4 linked regions of the Homo sapiens genome follow. The protein of the gene in region 1 interacts with the protein of each later gene in a biochemical or structural test. Each region holds a gene or a part of one and is shown in the gene's direction. Other genes may lie near its edges.

Region 1 (2,371 bases):
GAACTTAGATTCTTTTAAAAATCTGAAATGCTGAATTTTAGTAGCCATCAGTTTCATCTTCTCACTGTAACTCTCCATCCTACTGTGAAATTCCAGAGAGTCTAGGCGATTCCAAAGGAAACCTTATGATGCATTACTCCTGTTGTTTGAATTTTCTGTTGCTACTCTACGTGGTCAGAGAGAGAAGTATATTTTCAAAGATCTCTTAAAAAGGAACACAGCCCAGAGGGCTCTTGAATTCTATTTCCAATTCTGTCCTTGATTCCTATAAGTTTCTTGAGCTAATTATTTTATCTGCTTATGTTCATAATCTTTCTGCCAGAAATCATACACTGTAGATATAATGCATTTTAGAAATGTTTGACCTTTTGCTTTGTAAATCCATAATTCATGCTGAAAGCAACCTGCTCATATTCTGCTAAACCACGTAATGGAGCAATTTCTGTGTTCCTGGGAAGAGAGCTAGCTTGATTTGATTTAATGTGAACTCAGTCTCCTGCCACTGAGTTTATTCAAGCCCTACCTGTTTGTTGACCATTTTATCCTGTTCTTCAGTGGTTCTTGTTTCACTAAAGTTTAAAAATGTGTTTATTTAAAATTCTACTTGTACAAAGAAAACTAGTCTGAGTGCAAAAACTATAACTTTGTTTAAAATAGCTCTACACATAGTTAACATTTACCTTTTTTAGGTTTTCAGATTTGACTTTCTGCTGGTCATCTTTTCAAAGAAAATGAAACGTTTAAAAGTTCATCTGATAATACTGCTACCATAGTTTTGTTTTCACTGCTCATCTCTTATTAAGGTTTTTAACCATAAAACTGAAGCAATTTCTGTAAAGACACAAATTGATAACTTAGTATAGAATTAAAATTCATTAAGTTATCATAAGTTTGATGATATCCTTGTTAATGTACTGATTTTTGAATTATTTTATTTGCCATAATCCATATATTTCTAACATGAGTATTTTGACAGTATTTAATAAATCAGAAAGCTGTTTGAATGGAAGTAAACTATTGAACCTTTTAATTTTGCTTTTTCATGAAATTCTACATTGGGGCATCATTCAGAAAATATTTGTGGATACAGATTTTGGAGATCTCTAAGCCTATGCCTAATATAGCTTTAGAGAATTTTAATGGCTTCTTAAGGAGCCATAGATTCACAGTATTCTAAATATTTATGTCTAAGAAGGGGGCTCTTCCCTGTCCACAAAATGTGGGTTTATTTGTTGGTCTCCCTGGTTGGTTTGTTTGTTTCTGATGTAGGGCACGTGAAGCACTCAGACAGTGCCTCCCTGACCAGCTGAAAGACACAACCTTCGCCCAGGTGCTAAAAGATGACACCACCACGAAACGCTGGCTTGCACAACTGGTGAAGAACCTGCAAGAGGGCCAGGTCACCGATCCCCGGGGTATCCCCCTGCCCCCTCAGTGATCCTTCCCTGTTCCCTCCCACTACTCCCCCAAGTTGGGGAAAGGAGGGGGAACCTACGAGAAAAACAGCTCAGGTTTTATCACCGACTGGGAATAGACAACCTCAATGCTGAACCGCACTGGAGAAAAGGGGCAAGGTACCCCTGCTGAGGTGTATGGGCTGCCATCTCAGGCTGTCTTGAGGACCTGGGCTCCCTCTGCTACTCCCAGGAAATGGGCTCCTGACACAGCAGTCTGCCACCACAGCCCCAGGAGGGTGTCAACACCAGCAAATGCTGTATTTGCAGCATGTCCAAGATGACCCTTCTCCCCTACCTCTACCTAGCCACTGGCAGGGAGGGGAGACAGTGGTGATAGCAGCAGCACTCTAGGCATGGTGAACGCCTGGGACCAAGCCATGTGGCGTTTTTTATTTTGCCTTTCTGGAAGACTCAAGATATGTCTCTTCATTCTCTCTCAGTATTTGTTTACTTTGGTTTTTTTGTTTTTAATCTCAGAGAGAGGTGTGTTTAGTGGGCACAAGCTGTAATATTCAGCAAAACTTTGTCGACTGGCACTGTTTACAAGTCTGTTAGCTGCATAAGCTCAATAAAAAGTTGGTCTGGGCATTACATCCCCTCTGGCAGGCCAATAGCTGCATCAAGCTGTTGGGAGAAATGGGAGGGCAGGGGAAAGATGTAAAGCCAAAGTACAGCAGGAACCCACCACCTGTTTCCCTTCCTTCTCCCATTCTACTCCCAGTCCGGAATGCCACGAGGACCTTAACCTTGTTTCTGGCTTTAGCTGCTAGTTTTCCCAAATCTCAGTGCTTTCCCTTTTTGAACTTCCCTTCTATTAAACTTAAAACAGATGTCTTAATTAATCAGGCTGTCTTGGAAGGGTATTGTATTGGGAGACAAGGGGCGGTGGTGGACCTCACCTTCAATCCAAGTTT
Region 2 (2,904 bases), on another chromosome or scaffold:
TAGCATCTAGTGGGTAGAGGCCGGCAATGCTGCTAAACCTCCCACAGTGCTTAGGACAGCACTCCACAACAGAGAATTATGTAGTTCAAACTGTCAGTGGTGATGAGGTTGATAAACCCTGCTGTATGTGTTTCAAAGAATGGAATTGCCAGAAGCCCTCGCAGCCAAGACAAATTTGGGTCATTGGGAGGGAATAGGGAATCAAGGAGGTGACTTCAGGTATGGCCGGACTGAGATGAGCTATTTTGATGGGATTAGGATTAAGCTGATTTCCTTTCTCTCACCTTTTCTTTGTGCCAGCACTTGGCATAGCAATAGTGGAAAAAACAGTGAAATAAACTTCTTTTCTTCTAAGCTAGATGGAATATGATCCTATTCCAAGAGCTAAAAGCATCATTCTACTTCCCTGTAACACTTGCAGCTTTACTGTAAGCCACATCCATGCTGTCAGGCTCCCAAAATGTCAAGGCACATGATTTTTTGGGGGGAGGAGGGGTGTCAAGATTGTTGCATTATAAACTAGCTAATTTATTTCCCAAGGTATCCTGTAATCATAGTGCACCTGGGAGGATCTAAATTTCTCACTGTTTCTGCATCATGCGCCATATGTGAATTTCTTTGGCTAACATACCCTTGCTTGATTTGATTAGTCTACAATTACAGGAACAAATGTCCCTTAAAACAAACTTTTTTTTAGAGTAGTTTTAGGTTCACAGCAAAACTGAGTGGGAAGTACGGAGAATTGTCATATAACCCCTCTGCCTTTATTGTCTTTTGACTTTATTACTAATTTTCAAATAAGATTTATGTAAATGCAAGTGTTATTCTGTTAATGCAAAATTAAATGTTCCTCAATTTCATTGCTCACTAAATGGTAAAGCAAAAGTTAGGAGCAGATTGTTCTGAGTTATGGGATATTCTCTCTCTCCCTATTCAGTAGAAGAGGGAGGATCATTTGCATGGACTTCTTAGGGACATTAGCCACTCGGTGTAAGATCATTTATCTTCCTGAAAATGTTCCCATGTAGTTATACATCATCTTTTTATTTCTGGGGGATTTTATTTTTCTTATAGGAAGTTTTCCCTGTTTGGCTTTTGCCTAATTGGAAGCTATTTTAAGTTATTCAGCATGACAGTTGGACTGCTTTAAAAGTTAGAGTGTACCATAGCCGTAAACCTTACTGTGATTGAGAGTGTTCTAGGACTTATATTTATGATCTTGTTTGTGTCTCATGTAGTTAGGGAGCCAGGGGGAAACTAGTGATTGTATTCTTGAGCAGAATTTTTTTCTCCTGGCCGCAAAGTCCAGTTTCTTCCTTTAGTCACAATATCTCTCTGCTAATCATGGCCAGTGGACACACTATAATGCTTCTCTGTTTCTCTTTTGCCTCCTTTCAATCATGGGTCTTCCCCTGGGCTTTCCCTTTAATATTTGACCCTTTAAAAAATTAATAGTCTGTACAGAGTAGATCGAGAGAGTAAGCTTGCTTGCTTTTTTTTGGACAGGGTTCAGGTTCAAGTTCTCAATAACAAGTTTTGTGAACTTGGGGAAATTATTCCTGAGTCTGTTTCTTTATCTAGTAAATGCAGATTATCCTTGTCTGCCTGCCTCTCAGGGCTGTTGTGAAGATCACATGAAATAATTGACTATGAGAGTGCCTTGTAAACCATACAACACATACAAATGTAAAATAATATGCAAATATAAGAAATGTGAGGTTTAGTAAATTACATCAATTATGAAATGAAAGTAGGGTTGGAGAATTTATTTTCCCTTCTGTTGTCTTGTTTTGTGTAGCCTAGAGTGCTTTTTCTTCATCTTAATAAGTTCAGAGATGACCTTCGTTCAGTTTAGTTGTAGTATTTTATCTTTTTATAAATAAGGTCAATGGAGTTAAATGCTTCACTTGTTGAAACATGATATAATTTGGCATTGATCAGTGGTTGGTGCAAAGCAAAATTTCAAAAAGAAAATTCTGATTTTGCTAAGCAGCATAGATCGTGCCTGTTAGAACATCCTCCTCCTCCTTCTCAGCGTTGATTGCCAATCAGTTCTGTAGAATCAGAAATATTTTTCTATGCTTTTTTCAAAAACTCCAGTTTGTAATTTGACTTACATTGCTATTTTCAAAAATAAAACAACTATCTAAGTATTTGTTAAACAATTAGGTAGTTGTTATACTTCACCCTTTTCCCCCTGACCAGTTAGTTATACTATGTGGATTCTGGATGGTAGTAGATCAAGTTAGTTTAGTCACAATTTATAAAAAGCCTTTTCTATGTTGCTAGTGTCTTCTCATGTTTGATACTATTCATAAATAGACCCAGAAAACTGTAGGACTCCGGGACTCAGGCTGTGAATGATTGGTAGAACTGTTGGAGTAGAGCAGGCAGACTGTGTTGGAAATTATTCCATCTAGAAGGTATCAGCTCCTGCCTCCTCGGCCTTAGTGACTAAATGGAAATACATTCTTTTCAAATTCAAAAGCCTGTTCATTACTGCTTTTCTCTTCTGAAGCACATTGCCAGTTTTATAATGAAGAAGGACTTAATTATTTTTCTTTTTCTATTGCTTATGTTTATTCTTCATAAAATGACTTTTCTTCCATTTGTGGGCTGAGAAATAAGCTCCTATATTGGACTTTGCAGACTTGGCTTTTTTATAGCGTAAATCAGCTCAGCTGGCTAAATGCCTCACTAAGTGAAACTTCATAATGTAGCTGGAACTAAATTGTGCTCTGGAGCATTGAGTCTTTAAACTGGATTATTGATTTACAAACCCATAATGGTGAAGAGGCTATAGAGAGACAAGAACCTCCCTCTCCTGATCCTTGAGCAAGTTTTTCCTCACTTCAGGGGCTCTGAGCTCACGAGCAAAATCCTAACCAAGTTTATCTTGCTAGG
Region 3 (3,500 bases), about 14 Mb from region 1:
TTATGTCCTTCTAACTTTAGAAGAAGGAGAGACAATAGTAGTGATTAGTGGCTTTTAAAGTTCTTCTGTTTGTCTCTTAAAAATGCTCAAACTGTTCTTCTTGGACATTAGATATGCTAGTAATTGAAGACACTAGTGCTTTGTGTTAAAGTTCATCCTGTACCACAGTGCTGATTCCATGCCTCATGATAATCAGATGCAACTGTAGTTCCAATTGTGGGGTCATGCAAAACTGAAGCACACAGAGTATATGTGGAATGCCCTATGAATTTCATGTGTATGACAGTATTTTATCAACCATGTGCCAGAGGGGCTTACCTTTAATACAGGAAATTATGATAAGTAAACTGTTTTCACTTTTAAAAATCAAGTTATTAGCAAAACCACTAGCTTAGATCTGGGTAGACATTATAACAGGCATTCAGAGTATTTTAAGGAAGTGGTAGGTAGATAGAAACATACTGAAGTTAATGTTTGGGTAGAGTTAGGATGGTTTTATACCAACTCTTCATGGCTGCCTCTTGGGTGGGTTTTCTGTCATTAGTGGGCATTGTTTACATCACAAGGTCTAGACAATTTTCATTAGTCTGTGACCTGGGCCAGATGTTATAGTTCTCTAAAAGGCATCACTGCATTTTATGCTGAGCTTGTCCGTAGGCAGAGGGTTTGTAGACTATGTTCCCAACAAGCATTCAGTGAAGAATGGATAGGATCTGGGCTGAGAGAGAAAAGAAATTCCAGCTGGTCAAAAACAAACAAGGTGAATGTTTTGGAAGATGAACTGTGTTTTTTGAGCCCAAATGTCTGATGTTGATTCTATTAAAGGGAGTTTAACAAAGTACCTCCCACCCAACAACTTAGAATTTGGTTATATATTATCTTCTTCTCATCTTTTCTGAATCTTTCTTTCCCCCTAATATTTGACTTTCATATCATTTTTGTCATCAACTTGTGTATCTTCCAGAACTTTTAATCCATATACATATATATTTTTTCAGTCACACCTGTGGCTGAAATCCATATATTTTTAAAAGACAGTTTGGGGGATATAAAGATCCCCCAAATATAAAGTTTGGGTCTGAAAAAACAGTGTAAATGCATTTTAAAAAAGAATACGATTCACTTTTTAAACCCAGTATATTCAAAGTATAGCCTGATTATAGCAGTTTTCATATGTTAACTCTTAACGTTTGTTAGTTTATGGTTAATCTTTTATTAAGATTTGAGTAAAACTTTAAATTATTTTAACTGATTTTATGAAAATAGTATCCAACTTTAGTTTAGATGTAGGGTCTGTAAATCAGCAGTCAGCCTTAATAAGTACCTTGCATGTCTTACTTGCTATGTTTAGTTTCGTGAGTAAAATTTTATGAACTACTGATAAGATAACATTATGGGATATAAAATAGGGCTTCCGGCTGGATGTGCGTGGGGGTGGGAACATTAAGGACAGGGAGGCATCCAGTCTGGGAGCTGAACCTAGGAAAGTCAGTAAGAGGAGAAACATGAGCCAGGTACCTAGAAGGATAGATTCCTGTCATGATGTACATTTAGACTGTTAGAAATGAAAGCAGTACAGAGGGCTCTGGAATTCATTTGATCATGAAGACTCTTTTCACATAATGGCTCTAGGTTTCCACGTAAGCAGTCTGAGTATAAAATTCCTTAGTTCTCATAGGAAGTAGTAAATAGTGTTTTGTTGTTTTTATATGAAGGGATGGGAGTGTGGGACTAAGATTTCTTTTTTGTGAGTGGCTTATCAGATGCTACCTGTATTTGGCATTTTAACGTTTTGCCCTTTGTTTTCCAATTTGATTTTTAGATTGCTGGTTTTTGCAAAGTTTGTCTCAATAGTGAGAACATTTAACTCTGGCCACATTTCTTTTTCTTATCCCCCACAGAGAAAGCAGTCAAGGATGGAAAATTCTAATAGGTTAAAGCCTGCTTTTCTTTTTAAGACTCTTTTAGACTCAGGTCTGTCAGATTTTAGCAAGAGTTTCCCTTTCTTTTTTTTAGAAAAATATCTTAAGTAGGATCTCTTATTATTAGGCAATCTTTTCTTCTGTTGGGAAATGTAGATTTGGGAATGTCCGTAGGGGTATTATATGGATAGGGAGAATTAAGAGATGAGAAAGAAGGGAGAGGAGTAAGTATGTTATTGTGGAACAAGCAGCAGAGGGTGCAGAATTGGATTTTAGTTCTACTTTGCCATGTGCGAGTTACTTCTGCTGGCAAAGTTTTAGTTTCTTCTTAAACTATAAAATTAGGATAGTGAACTTCATAAAATCTCTGTGACAACTTTCAGCACTGTAATTTTGTGAATTTTTGGGGGAGGATCAGAATTACAAGTGGGAACCTGGCATTAATAAATAGTCATGATGAGTTTGATATAAGTCAACACAGGGAGCTGATTTTATCCACAAACAATGATATTTTCATGGGAAGAAAGAAAATGCTTTAAGATTGGGCAAAAGGAAGGTGTAAACTTCAGTATGGAAGGATGTCTAGTGCATTAAGTCTGGATGAGGAGTTGGCGGCTAATCAGTATTTTAATCAAGTACCTAGGACTTACTGAAAGTGCGTACTTGGAATACAGTGTCCTTTAAATGTACTGCATTTTAGATTTATCTTTTAAAGCTTTAGAGTATGTTGCCTGGCTCAGTACTTAAGTACTGTTGTCATCTCGTAATGGTACATATACTCTGAACTCTGAACTTCATTTAGTTGCCTAATGTTCTCTTTACTAGGTCAGTCCATTTGAGTTTGCGGTCACTTGTAGTTTTCTCCTTTATTTTCTATTCCTGATTTTCTTATTCAAATACTGTCATAAAACTTTTCTAAGGTTTGTGTCCTCCTTCTCATCTCAGATGGCCCTCGTTCTGCAGGCTGGCGGGAACACATGGAACGACGTCGGAGGTTTGAGTTTGATTTTCGAGATAGAGATGATGAACGGGGTTACCGAAGGGTTCGCTCTGGCAGTGGGAGCATAGATGATGACAGGGATAGCTTGCCCGAATGGTGCTTAGAGGATGCTGAAGAAGAAATGGGTACATTTGACTCATCTGGAGCATTCCTTTCTCTAAAAGTAAGAAACGTGTTTTAAATGTCATGACCAGCATTAACCTTATACCAAAGCCAAATCTGCTGTTGATCTTTGGTTTTATTCTCTTTCTACAGAAAGTACAGAAAGAGCCTATTCCAGAAGAGCAGGAGATGGACTTCCGGCCTGTGGACGAAGGGGAGGAGTGCTCTGACTCTGAGGGTAGCCATAATGAAGAGGCCAAAGAACCCGATAAGACAAATAAGAAAGAAGGAGAGAAAACAGATAGAGTAGGAGTTGGTAAGGCCTCTTCTTGCCCTTTGCCTTTTTTTTCCTCCATCAAACCAAAACTTTCGTAAGTTCAACTAAGATTACTTCGTGTTCCAGAAGCTAGTGAGGAAACTCCCCAGACCTCATCATCATCTGCTAGACCAGGTACTCCTTCAGACCATCAGTCTCA
Region 4 (3,500 bases), on another chromosome or scaffold:
TGGGCATCACTTGAATGGGAGTGACTGCTGATACCCTGATAGTGAATGAAGTCTAAGGAAAGCAAGTTTACAGAGAGAGTCAAAAGACTGAGACCCTGAGTCTACTTTGTCAGCCGCAGAGTATCCCAGCATTGAAGAAGCACCCGAGGTGAGCTCAGCATGGGTAGAGGAAGAGAAACCAGAATGGACAGATGGTGAGGAGGGGTGGTAGAGAGCATTGTCCACTTTTAAAAGATTTGTTGAAATAGAGCAGTAGCTTTTGGGCCGGAGCTGGCTATATCCAGCAAAGATTTTGCAGGAAAAAAGTTTCCAGGAGAGAAGATCATTTTTTATTGCAGAGCAGTCAGAATGAGGAGAGGAGCAGACAGAGCAAAGCCTAAGAGAGGGGAAGATGTTACCCTGTCTGGTGTCCAGTTTCCTCATCTGCTAAAAGGGCGATAACAGTAGAGTTACAAACATTAAATTAGTACACATAAAGCATTCATAGGCCAGGTGCGGTGGCTCACGTCTGTAAATCCAGCACTTTGGGAGGCCAAGGCAGGCAGATCACCTGAGGTCAGGAGTTTGAGACCAGCCTGGCCAACATGGGGAAACCCTGTCTCTACTGAAAATAAAAAAATTAGCTGGGTGTGGTGGTGGGTGCCTGTAATCCCAGCTGCTCAGGAGGCTGAGGCAGGAGGATTGCTTGAACCCGGGAGGCAGAGGTTCCAGTGAGCCAAGATCACACCACTGCACTCTAGCCTGGGCTACAGAGTGAGACCCCTTCTCAAAAAAAAAAAGAAAAGAAAAAGCACTTATAATGGCGACTGACATAAACCAGGCATTTATTAAATGGTGGTTTATCACAGTGGGTGTTGATTGTTTTTATTACTTGTTAATGGAAACTTACCTGTATTATAAAACTCAGCAGATTAGAGATGGCTAAAGGTGCCTTAAGTTATGTAACCTAAGAGTCCTTTTAAAACGAGGCCGGGCCTGGTGGCTCATACCTGTAATCCTAGCACATTGGGAGGCCGAAGCGGCCGGATCACTTGAGGTCAGGAGTTCAAGACCAGCCGGGCCAACATGGAGAAACCTACATCTCTACTAATAATACAAAAAATAGTCAGGTGTAGTGGTACACTCCTGTAATCCCAGCTACTCGAGAGGCTGAGGCATGAGAATTGCTTGAATCTAGGAGGTGGAGGTTGCAGTGAGCCGAGATCCCACCACTGCACTCCAGCCTGGGCCACAAAGCGAGACTGTCTAAAATAAAAAAGAAAAAAAAAGTGAGGTTATCAGCCAGCCACCTTCTGTTTACTAGTCTATTTCAAGTTAATTATTTCAGTAAAATAACAGTATCTCCTAATTGCGACTTCATTTGTGAGGAATGCAAAATTTATGAAATGGAAGTGTATTTTTCACATACCCTTGTCTTGGCTGAAGTCATTTCAGTTTGGAAAGTGAGTGTTTTGCTTTTGTTGTAAATTTATCTGAAACCAATTGGGTTGTCTTCCTGTTTGATAACAGTCTCCTGCCTTTATTAGGAATGTTACAAGACAAACGAATGGAGATAGATAAACATAGCCTAAATATTGGTGATTACAATCGAACGGTCGGGAAAGGCCCTGGTTCTCGGCCTCAGATTTCCAAAGAGTCTTCCATGGAGCGCAATCCTTATTTTGATAAGGTAAGGTTTTTTACTTTTACCTCTGACTTGATAAACCAGTATACTTCATAGCGTAATTTTCACACTAATATTTTAAAACCTTTTATATAATATAAAGTGTTACAATCCACTACCAAATCTTATTACTGGATTTTGAAGTTCACTGTCTTTTTATGTCTCAATTTATCATAGAGGTTGCATTTATATTTTTCTTCTTAATCCCATGAAATATGTTTGGCTCTTTTTGTGTGCTCTAGAATTAACACTAATCCGATCTCTTCTGTTTTCTACCTGTTTCCTGTTGATGCTGGAATGTCATGTGACTTCTCTTCTGTTCCTGCAATGATTTCTCCCTTCCACTTGTTTGCTTGGCTGGTGTTGCACATCTTTCTGTCTGTCCAATCAGGATGGCATTGTAGCAGATGAATCCCAAAACATGCAGTTTATGTCCAGTCAAAGCATGAAGCTTCCCCCTTCAAATAGTGCACTACCTAACCAGGCCCTTGGCTCCATAGCAGGGCTGGGTATGCAAAACTTGAATTCTGTTAGACAGGTAAGTCCAGATGTGTATTTTAGGCTCTCAGTTGAATGATTTGTATTAGTAATAAGATCTCTCTTACATGTAGTTACTGTGTTTAAATCATAGTACAGTGTGGTAATGAGATGTTTGTCCCTAAAGAATCCCACTGTTACTTGTTGCTGTTTGTTTTTATAGAATGGCAATCCCAGTATGTTTGGTGTTGGAAACACAGCAGCACAACCCCGGGGCATGCAGCAGCCTCCAGCACAACCTCTTAGTTCATCTCAGCCTAATCTCCGTGCTCAAGTGCCTCCTCCATTACTCTCCCCTCAGGTAAATAAGCTTTCCTTACATTCTCCTGTTTACCTGCAAAAAGGATCTTGCATGATTTTGTATTTGAATAAAATGGCTAACTAAGCATTATCATATTTATTGGCATCTTTGAGATTCAGCTAGTTTTGAATTAACTATTAAAAAAGGTTGTAGTAAGGAAAAGTCAAGGATAATTTAAATCCAAAATTTACCATTTTCTTCTTTAAAACATTCTTGAGAGTAGGACAAAAGCAAAGTAAAATTGACTAGTTTAAGATGCACCTCTGTCATCTTTTACTTAACCCACGAAAAAGTGTAAGTGAGTGGTCAGTTAGTAAGACAGAGACAAAGACTATAACCCCCAATGAATAGTCCACAAATTTAACTGCTCTATTGACAACTGAAAACACACAGTACGTGTAGTTAGTGTGAGTTATTTTATCAAGATCATTAACTTACCATTGTGATCCTAAGGTTCCAGTTTCATTGCTGAAGTATGCACCAAACAACGGTGGCCTGAATCCACTCTTTGGCCCTCAACAGGTAGCCATGCTGAACCAGCTATCCCAGCTAAACCAGCTTTCTCAGATCTCCCAGTTACAGGTAAGCAGAGTCATAGTCTTTCTTAGTACACATTTATGGAGCATCTACTGTATGCCAAACACTAGACTCTGTGCGGGACATAGTGCACTAAACAAAACAGGCGTAGTCATAGTCCTCATGGAGCTTACAGTCTATCGGGGGAGACAGATCGTGAACATTTGTGAAGAATGTCTTGAAGAAGTGCAGAATGCTGTGAGAGGAAACCTCAGCCAAGTCCAGGGTGCTAGTGTTAGTAGGATGATTAGGAAAAGTTTCTCTGTTGAAGTGAAAGTTTAGATTGAACTAAAGACTGAATTTCAGCAGTGACTAGAAACCAGAGAGTCCAAGGAAGAGATGGTACTAGATAATGCTAGACATGTTGGCATTGGCTAGATCACGTCGTGCCTCTGTAGGTCCATCTGCTGTCGTCATTTGGAA

The links. The genes of interacting proteins can lie anywhere in the genome.
Region 2: the proteins of CNOT9 (region 1) and CNOT4 form a complex in vitro, tested with the Homo sapiens proteins (one study listed by BioGRID).
Region 3: the proteins of CNOT9 (region 1) and GIGYF2 form a complex in vitro, tested with the Homo sapiens proteins (one study listed by BioGRID).
Region 4: the proteins of CNOT9 (region 1) and TNRC6A form a complex in vitro, tested with the Homo sapiens proteins (one study listed by BioGRID).

The regions. Positions count from the first base shown.
Region 1 is NC_000002.12:218,592,839-218,595,209, forward strand, and holds part of CNOT9 (CCR4-NOT transcription complex subunit 9), read left to right. Parts: intron 1-689; coding exon of another isoform or gene 690-735; exon of another isoform or gene 736-1,009; intron 1,010-1,269; coding exon 1,270-1,438; 3' UTR 1,439-2,371. UniProt on the Homo sapiens protein: Component of the CCR4-NOT complex which is one of the major cellular mRNA deadenylases and is linked to various cellular processes including bulk mRNA degradation, miRNA-mediated repression, translational repression during translational initiation and general transcription regulation.
Region 2 is NC_000007.14:135,364,199-135,367,102, reverse strand, and holds part of CNOT4 (CCR4-NOT transcription complex subunit 4), read left to right. Parts: intron 1-2,904. UniProt on the Homo sapiens protein: Has E3 ubiquitin ligase activity, promoting ubiquitination and degradation of target proteins. Involved in activation of the JAK/STAT pathway. Catalyzes ubiquitination of methylated RBM15.
Region 3 is NC_000002.12:232,787,831-232,791,330, forward strand, and holds part of GIGYF2 (GRB10-interacting GYF protein 2), read left to right. Parts: intron 1-2,867; coding exon 2,868-3,085; intron 3,086-3,177; coding exon 3,178-3,340; intron 3,341-3,427; coding exon 3,428-3,500. UniProt on the Homo sapiens protein: Key component of the 4EHP-GYF2 complex, a multiprotein complex that acts as a repressor of translation initiation. In the 4EHP-GYF2 complex, acts as a factor that bridges EIF4E2 to ZFP36/TTP, linking translation repression with mRNA decay.
Region 4 is NC_000016.10:24,802,651-24,806,150, forward strand, and holds part of TNRC6A (trinucleotide repeat-containing gene 6A protein), read left to right. Parts: intron 1-1,526; coding exon 1,527-1,669; intron 1,670-2,054; coding exon 2,055-2,201; intron 2,202-2,363; coding exon 2,364-2,501; intron 2,502-2,954; coding exon 2,955-3,083; intron 3,084-3,500.